Homo sapiens: one gene and its partners. The protein of the gene in region 1 purifies or fractionates together with the protein of each later gene. This does not show direct contact. Each region holds a gene or a part of one and is shown on either strand. Other genes may lie near its edges.

The links.
Region 2: the proteins of PAPOLG (region 1) and PRKCE purify together in Homo sapiens (affinity purification with mass spectrometry; one large-scale study listed by BioGRID and IntAct). This does not show direct contact.
Region 3: the proteins of PAPOLG (region 1) and LRSAM1 purify together in Homo sapiens (affinity purification with mass spectrometry; one large-scale study listed by BioGRID and IntAct). This does not show direct contact.
Region 4: the proteins of PAPOLG (region 1) and HNRNPR fractionate together in Homo sapiens (co-fractionation; one large-scale study listed by BioGRID). This does not show direct contact.

Annotation. Positions count from the first base shown.
Region 1 is NC_000002.12:60,783,361-60,787,614, forward strand, and holds part of PAPOLG (poly(A) polymerase gamma), read left to right. Parts: intron 1-3,586; coding exon 3,587-3,706; intron 3,707-4,150; coding exon 4,151-4,254. UniProt on the Homo sapiens protein: Responsible for the post-transcriptional adenylation of the 3'-terminal of mRNA precursors and several small RNAs including signal recognition particle (SRP) RNA, nuclear 7SK RNA, U2 small nuclear RNA, and ribosomal 5S RNA.
Region 2 is NC_000002.12:46,148,175-46,151,674, reverse strand, and holds part of PRKCE (protein kinase C epsilon type), read right to left. Parts: intron 635-3,500; coding exon 446-634; intron 1-445.
Region 3 is NC_000009.12:127,458,010-127,461,509, forward strand, and holds part of LRSAM1 (E3 ubiquitin-protein ligase LRSAM1), read left to right. Parts: intron 1-993; coding exon 994-1,062; intron 1,063-3,163; coding exon 3,164-3,248; intron 3,249-3,500.
Region 4 is NC_000001.11:23,323,785-23,327,284, reverse strand, and holds part of HNRNPR (heterogeneous nuclear ribonucleoprotein R), read left to right. Parts: intron 1-3,500. UniProt on the Homo sapiens protein: Component of ribonucleosomes, which are complexes of at least 20 other different heterogeneous nuclear ribonucleoproteins (hnRNP). hnRNP play an important role in processing of precursor mRNA in the nucleus.

The DNA.
Region 1 (4,254 bases):
TGTCTAGGCTGGAGTGCAGTGTCGCGATCTCAGTTTCGCCACGTTGGTCAGGCTGATCTCGAGCTCCTGACCTCAGGTGATCCGCCCACCTCAGCCTCCCAAAGTGCTGGGATTACAGGCCTGAGCCACTTTACCCGGCCTTTTTTTTTTTTTTTTTTTTTTTTTTTTGAGAAGGAGTCTCCCTCTGTCACCCAGACTGGAGTGTAGTGGCATAATCTCAGCTCACTGCAACCTCCGCCTCCTGGGTTCAAGTGATTCCCCTGCCTTAGCCGCCTGAGTAGCTGGGACTACAGGTGTGCACTTCTATGCCCTGTGGCTAATTTTTGTATTTTTAGTAGAGATGGGGTTTTACCATGTTGGCCAGGCTGGTCTCGAACTCCTGACCTCAAGTGATCCGTAAAATTATTATATCTTACTGGTGATTGTTGTGCATGACCATGGAGCTTCAGTGTTTAAAATATGCCATCAAATTAATGTTTCAGAATCAGGAGGGACATGAGCAAAAGACACATGTATAGATGTTGCTTCTTATTGCTTCTCAGCCAGATTTAAGCAAAATTTTGAGCTAGTTTGGATGATTCTGATAGCTACCATCTGAGTTTCTCTTTTCTTTGTTTTTATTTTTTATTTTGAGACGGAGTCTCGCTGTGTTGCTGAGGCTGGAGTGCAGTGGCGTGATCTCAGCTCACTGCAACCTCCGCCTCCCGGGTTCAAGCAATTCTCTGCCTCAGCCTCCAGAGTATCTGGGATTACAAGCACCCACCACCACGCCCAGCTAATTTTTGTACTTTTAGTAGAGACGGGGTTTCACCATCTTGGCCAGGCTGGTCTTGAACTCCTCACCTCGTGATCCACCCGCCTTGGCCTCCCAAAGTGCTGGAATTACAGGCGTGAGCCACCACACCCGGCCTGAGTTTTTCATTTTTGCCATTGTGTTTACCTCCAACAAAACTCAGTAGAAAAGACATTTTGTATATCCTTTTAATTTAGGAGATAATGGCTTAAATCTTTCAGATTAAGCTTCCGTCAACAGGTAAGAGATATTTGTGGTCAAGAAGTAGTGTGTTCTTTCTAGTGCATCTAAATTTATCCCTTCTGCCTCTACTATATTCACATCCTTGGCTCTATCAGACGGAAGCTGTTAGACCACCAGAGATGGTTGTACTTTCCTTGGGTCTGACTTCTGGAAAAGCAAAACAGCAATACTGTTTTATTTTTGCTTCAAGAGTTTAATCCTTATTTCATTGGTAATTAAAGGAACTCTGAAAATAATCCTGTCACTGAAACAGTATTTTGTTTGTCTAGATCTGCAGTCAGAAAATAGGGTCTAGGCCAAATTCAGTCTGCCACCTATTTTTATAAAGTTTTATTGGAACATAGCCATGTTTCTTCGTTTATATATTATCTATGGCTGCTTCTGTGCTTCATAGCAAAGTTGAATAGGTGTAACAAAGACTGTATGGCCCAGAAACCCTAAAATTTACTATTTAGCCCTTTACAGAAAAAGTTTGCCAACCCGTCATTTAGATGACACTGGAATAACACAGATTTTTGTAGATTTACTGTTAAAGCACACATAATTATAATGTATAAGCTTTTGCTGATGTTTTTAAAAAATGTTAAAATGTTCTTGTAATGTTTCTAATTCATAAAGTCATTAATAAGCAAGCTGCCATCGGTCACATTTCTTAAGTGAGATAGAAATAAAATTGCAGAAATCCGATGAGACTTGCTGTATTTTAATAGGATGTGATCCAAATTTAGTGAATTCTTTTTTTGTTTTTTGTTTTTTTTTTGATATGGAGTCTTGCTTTGTCACCCAGACTGGAGTGTAGTGGTGCGATCTCAGCTCACTGAAAGCTCCACCTCCCAGGTTCATGCCATTCTCCTGCCTCAGCCTGGCAAGCAGCTGGGACTACAGGCGCCCGCACCTCGCCTGGCTAATTTTTTGTATTTTTAGTAGAGACGGGGTTTCACCATGTTAGCCAGGATGGTCTCAATCTCCTGTCCTCGTGATGCACCCACCTTGGCCTCCCAGAGTGCTGGGATTACAGGCGTTAGCCACCGTGCCCAGCCCGTGAATTTTTTTAAATGCAAAGTCAAGCATGATTGTTTCATATATTATGTGCCAATATTAGTTTCATTGTTTAAACTTATCTTAGCCTTAGGATTTATTTTTTTTTTTAGAGACGGAGTCTCACTGTCACCCAGGCTGGAGTATAGTGGGGTGATCATACTGCAACCTCAAACTCCTGGGATCAAGCGATGCCTCCTGCCTCGGCTCCCCAAGTAGCTGGGGCCTGCAGGCCCTTGCTACCATACCTGGCTGATTTTTTTTTTTTTTTTTATCTTATAGGGATGGAATCTCACTATGTTGCCCCAGGTGATCTCGAACTCCTGGCTTCACGTGATCCTCCCGCCTCAGCTTCCCAAAGTGCTGGGATTAACAAGCATGAGCCACCGCACCTGGCCTAGCCTAGCCTTAGGTTTGAGACATAAGATTTGAAGGTAGAAAAAGATTCAGGACTAGATAAACCAGCAGTTTTTGTTCATGCCCTAAGCCATGACTGTTTTATAGTCTTAACTAAGGGTATTTTAGATTCAGGAATGCATTACATAGATTAGTTCTTCTATTAAAAAAAAGAACACACAGAAATCTACTAACTTGTCATTTACTACAATGGCGTTTTAAATGGGGTTCCTAATATATTGGGCTGAAATTTTTAAATGAACATGTAAAGATTCATAGGTAATATGCTGTTTGGTTTACTTGAGTGTAGCTTTCATATTTAAAGTTGATATAAAATCAATTGTGTTTACAATTGCATTTAAAATGGGGTTCCTAATATATTGGGCTGAAATTTTTATTTTATTTATTTATTTATTTAGAGATGGAACCTCACTCTGTCACCCAGGCTGGAGTGCAGTGGGGTGATCTTAGCTCACTGCAACCTCCACCTCCCAGCTTCAAGCAATTCTCGTGCTTCAGCCTCCTGAGTAGCTGGGAATATAGGTGTGCGCCATACTCGGCCAATTTTTTTTGTATTTTTAGTAAAGACAGGGTTTCACCATGTTGGCCAGGCTGGTCTCGAACTCCTGACCTCAGGTGATCTGTGCACCTCAGTCTTCCAAAGTGCTGGGATTACAGGCATGAGCCACTGCACCTGGCCTGAAATTTTTTTTTTTGAGACGGAGTCTTGCTCTGTTGCCCAGGCTGGAGTGCAGTGGCACAATCTCAGCTCACTGCAACCTCCACCTCCCAGTTTCACGTGATTCTCCTGCTTCAGCCTCCCAAGTAGCTGGGATTACAGGCACTCACCACCACACCCAGCTAATTTTTTGTATTTTTAGTAGAGACGGGATTTTGCCGTGTTGGCCAAACTGGTCTTGAACTCCTGACCTCAGGCGATTCACCCACTCTTGCCTCCCAAAGTGCTGGGAGTACAGATGTGAGCCACCATGCCCAGCCCGAAGTTTTTTAATGAACATGTAAAGCTTCGTAGTTAATATGCTGTTTGGTTTACTTGAGTGTAGCTTTCAAATTTAAAGTGGACATAAGATAAATTGTGTTTGTTGTTTATTTTAGGGTTGGATTAGTAGAATCTAAAATCCGTGTACTTGTTGGAAACTTGGAACGGAATGAATTTATTACTCTTGCCCATGTGAATCCCCAGTCATTCCCAGGGAATAAGGAACATCATAAAGAGTAAGTTAATTGTTTTATAATACTTTATTTCTTAAATAATGTTATTTGGTATATGCATCATTTCAGAGTAATTGTGAGATTTTTGTTTAACAGGCATTGATGGGAGTATGACACATTATATATTTGAGTTTGAGTGTCTAGGCATTAAAAATAAGTACATAACTACTTTGGTAGCCCACAAACCCCAGCAAAACACCATCACAATATTTGGAGCATCTTTAAGAATATATTTAGTAAGTCATTTTCATAGCTGCTTAATCCTTCTCAGAACAACAGGGGATAACTTACCAGTTCTGGATGTCACTTTTAAGAATCTGGCCAGACCACTGAAATCTGTATTTGTGAGATAGAGACATAGAGACCAAGTTTTAATTATGAAATAGCATCTGTAAAGTTGTAAAAAATAATAATAATTAATGGAAATTCTTAAATTTTACTTTATAGCAACAATTACGTATCAATGTGGTTCCTTGGGATAATTTTTCGGAGAGTAGAAAATGCAGAAAGTGTCAACATAGACTTGACATATGATATACAGTCATTTACTG
Region 2 (3,500 bases), about 15 Mb from region 1:
GCCCACCCTCCCTCCCCTCCTCTCTGTTCTCCATCACAGGTCCCTGATGAAGACAGGCCACAGGTAAGGAAGGTATGGAAGTGGCAGAGGTGATGTCAGCACAGTTGAGTTGCTTCTGTTCCCTCTGAAATGCTGGAGGACACAGATGTACACAGTGCCTCATCTCAGGAAGCACAGACATGCGCTCCTCTTCCCACCAGAAGAGCAAGTCATCTCAGGCCCCATTCTCTTGGCAGCAGTCCTCTGCACTGTGCCTGAACTCCCAGTGGCAACTGCCCTTAATCCTTCCCATTCCGTGGTGATGAGCAGAGGTGGGAGGGAGAAAGCTGGACAGAGAAAGGGAGAAGGGAGTGTGTGTGTGTGTGTGTGTGTGTGTGTGTGTGTGTGTGTGTGTAGGGGGAGGAGCCCAGGAGAGCACAGCCATGGGTGAGGGGCAGTGACTCACAGCTTTCAAGATGCTGACAGCCTCCTTGCTGAGCCAGACTGGGTACAGCACGTCGTCATGGAGGATGGACTCAAATAGGTCGTCCTCATTGTCGGCCTCAAAGGGAGGCTGTCCAGCCATCATCTCGTACATCAGCACCCCCAGGGCCCACCAGTCCACGGAGGGGCCATACTCCAACTCCTGCAGGATCTGTTCAGGAAACCAGCAATGTCAGGCACCATCAAAGGCTCCCACCCCAGTGACACCCGTGCTACGAACGCCCATGGGAAGGACTTCAATTCCAACTTGCTCCTCCCTACAGTTGAGTCCTAGTCCTAGAAGTTCTAAATCAGCAAATTCAGTGACAGTTGAGTTTGGAGGCACTATGCTGGGGGCCAGCTATCATCTTTCCAAAGTCAACATCGACAGTCTGTCTTCCAGTGGGAACAAATTCCTATTTCTTTGAGCACCAGATAAAGTTCCTGACTGGCATGAGGGCCACATTTTAAAAAACTGCATATTTTGACACTAAAATCAGGGTCAGGGGAGCACGATGCATACTGAGAGAACAAGCTGTAAGTGACTCAGAGTGCAGCGAGGTCAGGTCTCCCATCTCACACAGTCCAGGGCACAGCTCACTGCCTGAGTGGAAAGGTGAGCAGAGGTCTTCTTTAAATGGTGCAACACTCAATTTACCTGAGCCCTGTGCTCCTGGAGAGGAAACTGCAATGAATAAGTCTCCCCCACCCTGTAATGGTCTCCCTATAAAGGACCACTATACTCTTGCATATTCTAAGAAAAAACCCATCTCTATTGTTCATCATGATTCCCATAAGATCCACTGAAGAATCCCCCACTTTGCCTGCCTCTACAAAACCGTAGGCCCCCTTCCTTTGGGGCCACCTTCACTAATGAACCCCCTATTGCAATAGCCAGAATCGAACCATCTCCTTGATTGTCTGGTGCATTTTGTCTTTGACAATGGTCACTTGTCTTATCTATGCTGTCTCTCTTTTTCCTCTAGCCAAATATGTAGAGTCAAATTCACTTAGATTAAATGCATGTATGACATGATGCTACTGAATACAAGACATCTTTTCTGGCTGGGCGCAATGGCTCACACCTGTAATCCTAGCACTTTGGGAGGCTGAGGTGGGAGGATCACTTGAGTCCAGGACTTCGAGACCAGCCTGGGCAACATGGTAAGACCCTGTCTCTTAAAAAAAATTAGCTGGGCATGGTGGTACGTGTCTGTAGTCTCACCTTCTCAGAAGGCTGAGGTGGAAAAATCACTTGAGCCCGGGAGTTTGAGGCTGTAGTGAGTCATAATCATGCGACTGCACTTCAACCTGGGTAACAGAGTGAGACCCTATCTCAAAAAAAAAAAAAAGGATCTTTTCTGATTGGCTATTCTATTTGATCTGCTCTCCATACACATATGTCATAAATACATGATACACACACACGCACATATAAATATGTAGCATGTCAATGACATATATATATAAATACATATATATAAATACATATATATAAAAATACATATATATATATATGGAGATGACATCCAATAGAAAAGACTAGAATTTAATATCACCTTTCAGCTGTATAGAGCTTTGTATTTTACAGTATGCCTTTAAAATATAACATATATAAATAAAATAAATATGTAGCAGATCAATGATGTGTTTGGCTCAGAGGAAAAATAAATGCTGAGCTGTCCACTCTACAAGGAAGAGATCATGAGGTGACATTCCCATTCCACAATTATTTTCTCTTCTTATTAGAGTGGGATTAGGCATGGCTCTGCCCAGAAACAGGAGGGTGGATGAGATGACCTATCCAGGTCCATAATTCTATAAAGAATTTTAAAAAGGGAAGGAGAAACAAGGTTGGAGTGCATATCCTGCAAGGGGGAACACTTTGAGGACCCTGAAAAAAAAAGGCAAAGTTCATGCCTAGTCATTCCAGCCCATGGGACACCTTGGGCAGATAATATCTCAGGCTGGGGACAAGGCTCCAATTTAGTTCTCAGATTTCATGGTGGCCAGGGAAGAGGAGGCTGAATTCAAGTATCTGGACTTTCTGTGGTCTGCTCAAAATACCCTTCTAGAGGTTACAAATTGCTTAGGATGAACTAGAAAGATTTGGATAGAAGAAGCATTTAGAAACAGTTAAAACACTCACAGTTTAGAATCTTCTGAATTTGGAATGAAAAGGAATTTGAGAAAATGCAGCCAACTCTACATTACTTGGGGCTGGTAATCTGTTTAGCTAATACCTTTGGTCTAAGCCCAGTGGTTAGTGTTCCTTGAGCTGTAAGGTCAAAGCTATGGGCTCCACTGTCCTGAGGAGCCAGTGATTCTGCTATGCTCCAAAGCCAATGCCAACTCCTCCCTCAACCTCAAAAGACACAGCGCCCAACTTAAGACCCCTGCCTGTTCCTACGAGTTGCAGGCACTTTCTCACTTTCCACATACCACTACGTCGTTAGTTATTTTTTCATGGCCAGCGGTCTCCCCAGTGCAACTATAAGGTACCAGAGGGTAGGAGCTGTAACATGCTACTGAGCCCAGTGCTGTGGCCAGCCTGTTCTATCATCCAGGAGACAGTCAACATCTTGTGACTGGCTAGCATGCATGGCCACTGTGTGTATCTACTGGGCATGCTCCCTTCTCTTCTAGCCTCAGGGCACACTGGGTGCTACAGTGGCTGCCCTCCAGCTTCTCGGAAGGAGGCAGCTGGGTTCTGTGCCTTCAGGGGGTGGGGAGAAGGTGGCTTGTGTGTGCTGAGACTGGATGGTGCTGTGGAAACCACAGAGCCGCCCTGCCACCCCACTCCAGGCCCCTTCCACAGCCTTCTCATTTTGGGTGGCATCTTTTGTAAGATTCCTTTTAGGCTTGGCTCTAATTATCTGCTTCCTAATTAACTGTCGGCAGTGGATCTGGGCAGAAGGGCAAGGCTTCCATGTCACGGGAAGTCACCTGGAGCCAACCCCTCAAGTGCGTCAGAGCTCGGGAGAAGGGAGAAGGGAGAAGGCATTGGCCCTGATGATGCTATTACCAAAGGCTGGTGG
Region 3 (3,500 bases), on another chromosome or scaffold:
TCCATAGATATGGAGGGTACCTGTGTGTGCACATGTATAAATATTTCTCCAAGGCCTTTTTTGTGCATTTTCATTTTTAAAAAATTAGCAGTCAGTCGTGGTGGCTCACACCCATAATCCTAGCACTTTGGGAGGCCAAGGCGGGTGGGTCACTTGAGGTCAGGAGTTCAAGACCAGCCTGGCCAACATGGTGAAACCCCGTCTCTACTAAAAATACAAAAAATTAGCCGGGCGCGGTGGCGGGCGCCTGTAGTCCCAGCTACTCGGGAGGCTGAGGCAGGAGAATGGCGTGAACCCGGGAAGCGGAGCTTGCAGTGAGCCGAGATTGCGCCACTGCAGTCCGCAGTCCGGCGTGGGCGACAGAGCGAGACTTCGTCTCAAAAACAAAACAAAACAAAACAAAACAAAACAAAAAAAAACACCAGCAGAGCATGTTGGCTTGTGCTTGTAATCCCAGCTACTTGGGAGGCTGAGGCACGAGAATCACTTGAACCCAGGAGGTGGAGGTTGCAGTGAGCTGAGGTCGTGCCACTGCACTCCAGCCTGGGTGACAGAGTGAGACTCTGTCTCAAAATAAAACAAAATAAAATAAAATTAAATTAAAAATTAGCAAGTACAGTTAAGCAAAGGGGGAAACATCTATAATTTTACACTGTGGAGTACCACTGTCAATATTTTATCGCATATTTGAAAGTCTTACATATTTATACAATGGAGTGTTTCTTTTTAACATATTAGTATCTAGGCATACTGTTTTATAGCATAGTTTTTCAGTTAACAGTAAAAATAAATATACATAAAATAAGAAAATGGTATAATGGTTTGAGAAGGAAAATGAGGCGGGAATGATCAACACTGAGTGGGAAAGGAGTGGCAGGCACTCTGTTTCTGCACTGGGGGTGTGAGGTGGCCCCAGCCCCTCCTCAGCGCTCTGGAGCCCGGAGTCTGAGGGACTTTCTCACTTGGAGACTCACAGGGGTCTTTCTTCTGCAGGTTCTAGATCTCCACGATAATCAGCTGACAGCCCTTCCTGACGATCTGGGGCAGCTGACTGCCCTCCAGGTAAGGCTGCAGAAACAGAAACCCACCTCGGATGGCCTTAGTGAGACCAGGCAGTCACTCAAGCCTGGAATGTTCTGGCCGGGCTCCAGCCAGTGGAAGCAGGCTGCAATCAGTGCCAGCTCCACCCTCCCCTTGGCCCTTTGGGGTTTTTTTTTTTTTTTTTGAGGCAGTGCCTCACTGCGTTGCCCAGGCTGGGGTGCAGTGGCGCCATCAGAGTTGCAGAGGCAACCTCTGCCTCCCGAGTTCAAGCGATTCTCCTGCCTCAGCCTCCCTAGTAGCTGGGATTACAGGTGTGTGCCACCACTCCCAGCTAGTTTTTGTATTTTTAGTAGAGATGGTGTTTCGCCTTGTTGGCCTGACTGGTCTCAAACTCCTGACCTCAAGTTATCCACTCACTTTGGCCTCCCAAAGTGCTGGGATTACAGGTGTGAGCCACCACGCCTGACCAATTGTACCACTTTGAGCCACAATAAATACCTTGGTGTAGGACTTTTTGTATGTGTATTTTTTTTTTCTCACTCTTGTCACCCAGGCTGGAGTGCAGTGGCACCATCTCAACTCACTGCAACATCTGCCTCCCGGGTTCAAGAGATTCTCATGCCTCAGCCTCCTGAGTATCTGGGATTACAGGCACACGCCACCACACCTGGACAATTTTTGTATTTTCAGTAGAGACTTGTTTTCACCATGTTGGCCAGGCTGACCTCAAACTCCTGGCCTCAGGTGATCCACCCGTCTTGGCCTCCCAAAGTGCTGGAATTACAGGCATGAGCCACTGCACCTGGCCAGTAGGTGTATTTTTATAGAATTGCTGCATTCACTAATTTGTAACTTTTGGATACCTGACAATAACTCATAGCATCCTTTGGTTCATCAAATATTCATCTTATTATTTTTAATGGCTACTTAGCTTTCCATTGCATCATTTTTTGTTTGTTTGTATTTTTGAGATAGAGTCTCGCTCTATCACCAGGCTGGAGTGCAGTGGTGTGATCTCGGCTCACTGCAATCTCCACCTCCCGGGTTCAAGCGATTCCCCTGCCTCAGCCTCCTAAGTAGCTGGAATTACAGGCGCCCACCACTATGCCTGGCTAATTTTTTATATTTTAGTAGAGACGGGGTTTCACCATGTTCACCAGGATGGTCTCAATCTCCTGATCTCATGATCCACCCACCTCAGCCTCCCAAAGTGCTGGGATTACAGGTGTTAGCCACCGTGCCTGGCCCCCATTGCATCTATTTTTAATGGTTAGTGTGTCATCCTGCTAGCCTTGCTCACCTCGAGGTACCACCTTCTGGAGGGAGCACAGCTTCGGAATCCAACAAGCCCTGGTTCAGTCCCAGCACCACTGCCGGCCTGAGGCCTTGGGTGGATCACACGGCCTTAGGGCAGCCTTTTCCTTAAGGCCAGGGGAACTAGAGCCTCCTGTGCTGCCTCCCCAGATCCCCAAGTCTGTAGTCCCCTTCTCCCTCCTTCCCTGATGGTGGGGCAGTTACTGAGCATTTTGTGGTCGGTGTAAGTGCTGGAACCTCAGCCAGAAGGGGTTCAAGGCCTGGCTGTGCTCTCCTGAGCACGTGACTTTGCCACCCTGAGCTTCAGTTTTTTTCCTGTCTCCAGCGGAAACAAGAATTTCTGTCTTCCTCAAGGGCCGGTAGGGGGAGATAAGAGCTTGTGTGTGTAGTGCCTGGGTGCCCTGGCCCGGCAGGGCGAGGGGTGCGGGGGTCATCACTGTGGTCTGTGTGTGGGTTCTCGTGTCACCTCTTCCTGTTTCTTTCTTTTTTTTTTTTTTTTTTTTTTTTTTGAGACGGAGTCTCACTCTGTTGCCCAGGCCGGAGTGCAATGGTGCAATCTCAGCTCACCGCAACCTCTGCCTCCTGGGTTCAAGCAATTCTCCTGCCTCAGCCTCCCGAGTAGCTGGGACTACAGGTGTGTGCCACCATGCCCAGCTAATTTTTGTATTTTTAGTAGAGATGGGATTTCACTATGTTGGCCAGGCTGGTCTTGAACTCTTGACCTTGTGATCCACCTGCCTCGGCCTCCCAAAGTGCTGGGATTACAGGCATAAGCCACTGCGCCTGGCTGCCTCTTCCTCTTTCTTAGGTCTTAAACGTGGAAAGGAATCAACTGATGCAGCTCCCACGTTCCATTGGGAACCTGACCCAGCTCCAGACTCTCAATGTTAAAGGTAGGGACCAAGAAGCCGTGTCCGTGTGACCCTCCATCAGCTCTGGGCCATCCTGGCCGGGATCCACAGGCTGCCCCGCCCGGGAGCCATTGAGCAGGAGGGCAGCCAGTCTCCGGGGGTCGCTGTAAATGGACTGACCCCTGCTGGGTCAGCTGTCTTCATGGTAACCAGAGACAGGCTGTCTGGAGGGTTCCTGTGGCTCCTGAGAGCCAGGGCCGTATGGCCGTATGGGGAGGAGGGCAGCTGGGCCCC
Region 4 (3,500 bases), on another chromosome or scaffold:
GGTATATCTAATTACTTGTCTCTTGAAAGATTTGTATTATACAAGTTCTGAGTAGGGTGGGAGCCATGTGTTTGTATAGGCTAGGCATTTACGTGGAGCAACTTCAAGCAGATACTTTAAAGATTAATTGGATATGGGTGGTAATGGGAGGAATTGAAAACATCTGAGATGTCTGTTTATGGAAGTAGTTCCTCAGTCACCTGGAGGTGGGGGCTAGGAGGGGAGAGAAACAGAAATTATATTCTTCTAAAGGTAGACGGGGGCAATCAGAGGAGCCAGTTGACAAGGCTGGGTTTTAATCATTTTGATTTTTAGAAAAAATCATTTGTTACAAACATGTCTTCATCATAGATTTCAAGGTATAAAGATGAGATTGGTATTCTGAATACTTCAGGTAAGAAAAGGTTTTGACGGTGGTAGTTGCATCACCAGTGTTAATACTTGTAGAGAAGGCAAGGATGATGAGAACTGAGGGGGAAAAATACTTTTATTTTTCTTCCTGAGACAGTTTCACTCTTGTCACCCAGGCTGGGGTGCAATGGCGCGATCTCAGCTCGCTGCAACCTCCGCCTCTCAGGTTCAAGCAATTATCCTGCCTCAGCCTCCCGAGTGGCTGGAATTACAGGTGCCTGCCACCATGCCTGGCCAATTTTTGTATTTTTAGTAGAGATGGGGTTTCACCATGTTGGCCAGGCTGGTCTTGAACTCCTGACCTCAAGTATTCCGCCCGTCTCAGCCTCCCAAAGTGCTGGGATTACAGGCATAAGTCACTGTGCCCGGCCTGGAAAAAGACTTGAATTTGGTTATTAGAAGTTTATTAGTGACATCTGGGTATACAGCTCGAGTTAGAGGAAGAAGCCAATTATAGAGGGTTAAAGAGAACATAGATGCTGTGTGCTTTTCTCAGTATGTTTTTGTTACAAAGATTGTTCTGCAGGGACATCACTTAAATCACATATAACAGTATCTTGTATCCCTAGTTGTGATGATGCCATAGATGTCTTGTTTCTACTTCTCTTTGGCTTCACGGTATTAAGCATGTAGTAGATGTGTTGAAAATAATAACTGTGTGAGTAAAAAAAAAAACGTACGGATGGCGTGTTCAAAACAGGCCGGGCGCAGTGGCTCACACCTGTAATCCCAGTACTTTGGAGGGCCAAGAAAGGAACAGGAAGATCACTTGAGTCCAGGAGTTTGAGACCACCCTGAGCATCATAGTGAGAGCCTCTCTCTTCCCCCAACCGCCACCCCCAGATATTAGCTGGGCATAGTGGCAAGAGCCTCTGGTCCCAGCTACTTGAGAGGCTGAGGTGGGAGGATTACTTGAGTCTGGGAGTGTGAGGATATAGTGAGCCATGATCATGCCACTGCGCTGCAGCCTGGGCGACAAGGTGAGACCCTGTCTCAAAAACAAACCAAACATTTATCAGTGAAAGGAAATAAATATAATACAATCTAAAGTAAGGGGTGTTTTGTTGTGTTTTGTTTTTGGATTGTTTGGAGACAGGAAGGAGCCAGTGGGAAGGGAAGGATGGTACTGAGCAAAATATGAGAGTTGAAGGAATAACGATTTGCAGTTATTTCCAGAAAGTGGTAAGAAGAAATGGGCTTATTTATTGTGGCTAAGGAGTTAACCTTAGAAAGGAGGTAGATCTCTTTCTCTGAGGTGCGATAGAAGTGAAAGTAGACATTGTGAGAGGTAAGAATATGAAGAAACCAATGACTTTCTCAGGTGATATCCTTAGAATGAGGTTTAGTGAATGAGGATTGGGGACCTTAAGGAGGTAGAAGAATTGCAATAACTATTGTGTGAGAATCATGCCAAGGAGTCAAAAGAATACCTCAAGTTTTACCAGATAGCAGTGAAAGTGAGTCTTGATTATTTTGGAAAGGATTATCTCTAGATAGTACATCTGTTGTAGAGCTTAACTTCAGAAACTTAATGTCCATAATAATGTCGGCATATTTTGGATTGGATTGCTATTATTACTTCTATATTTACCTATTATTCCAGCTATTTTTCAGACTGTGAAATGGTGATGTAGATGAGTTTCACTAGAAAATTTGTCATGCAAATACTAATTTTACTCATTCAGACTTTGTGGATTACAAATGTTTTAATATAAAATTTTTTGTTTTTTTTTTGAGATGGAGTCTCCCTCTGTTGCCCAGGCTGGAGTGTAGTGGCGCGATCTCGGCTCCCTGCAAGCTCCGCCTCCCGGGTTCATGCCATTCTCCTGCCTCAGCCTCCTGAGTAGCTGGGGCTACAGGCGCCGGCCACCACGCCCGGCTAATTTTTTGTATTTTTAGTAGAGACAGGGTTTCACCATGTTAGCCAGGATGGTCTCGGTCTCCTGACTTCGTGATCCGCCCGCCTCAGCCTCCCAAAGTGCTGGGATTACAGGCGTGAGCCACCGCGCCCGGCCAACATAAAACATTTTTAATGTTGCTTACATTGGAAAAACTTGAAGAAAATTGTAATCTGGTATCAAATGAGGGTTTTTGACTGTATAATTTTTAATTTATCATTGTATATTATAATTTAATCGTATATAATTTTGTAATTAAAGATCACAAATTCTTCAAATGGTGAAGAGGTTTTTTTTCATACCTTAAAATTTAATATTTAATATCTGGATAGAGAGAGGAATAGATTGAAGCACTGGAGTTTCTGAAAAATATTGAGATTGCTTTTTATTTATTTATTTATTTATTTAGAGATGGAGTCTTGCTCTGTTGCCCAGGCTGGAGTGCAGTGGCACGATCTCGGCTCGCTGCAAGCTCCACCTCCCGGGCTCACGCCATTCTCCTGCCTCAGCCTCCCAAGTAGCTGGGAGTACAGGCGCCTGCCACCATGCCCGGAGAATTTTTTGTATTTTTAGTGGAGACGGGGTTTCACCATGTTAGCCAGGATAGTCTCGATCTCCTGACCTTGTGATCCACCCACCTCGGCCTCCCAAAGTGCTGGGATTACAGGCGTGAGCTGCCGCGCCCGGCCGAGGTTGCTTTTTAAGTAGTAAAGATTTTAGAGTTGAGGAGATAACTTGAGGAGAGCTATGTCAATCTTTTATTCAATTATTTTATTTTTATTCATTTTTATTTTTAATTTATAAATTAATTTTTTAATTTTAAATAATAGAAATGGGGTTTTGCCATGTTGCCTAGGCTAGTTTTGAACTCCTAGACTCAAGTGATCCGCCTTCCTTGGCCTCTCAAAGTGCTAGGATTACAGGCGTGAGCTGCTGCGTCCAGCCTCCTTTATTCTGTTTTTATGAGAAAAAGTCAAGTTATAAAAATTTAAAATTTAGAGTAAATACAAATTTTACACTCTTATTAGTTTCCATTTTTCAAGAGACTTGTTCTTTGATAACCCTAAGGTCATTATAATAAAAATTAGGATTAGCTCTGCAAGTCAACTGTAAGTTTCAGATTGTTTCCATTCTTTCTTAACCATCTTCTTCTGCCCCCATCTTTAAAAAAAAAAGGCAGTAGGCTTTATG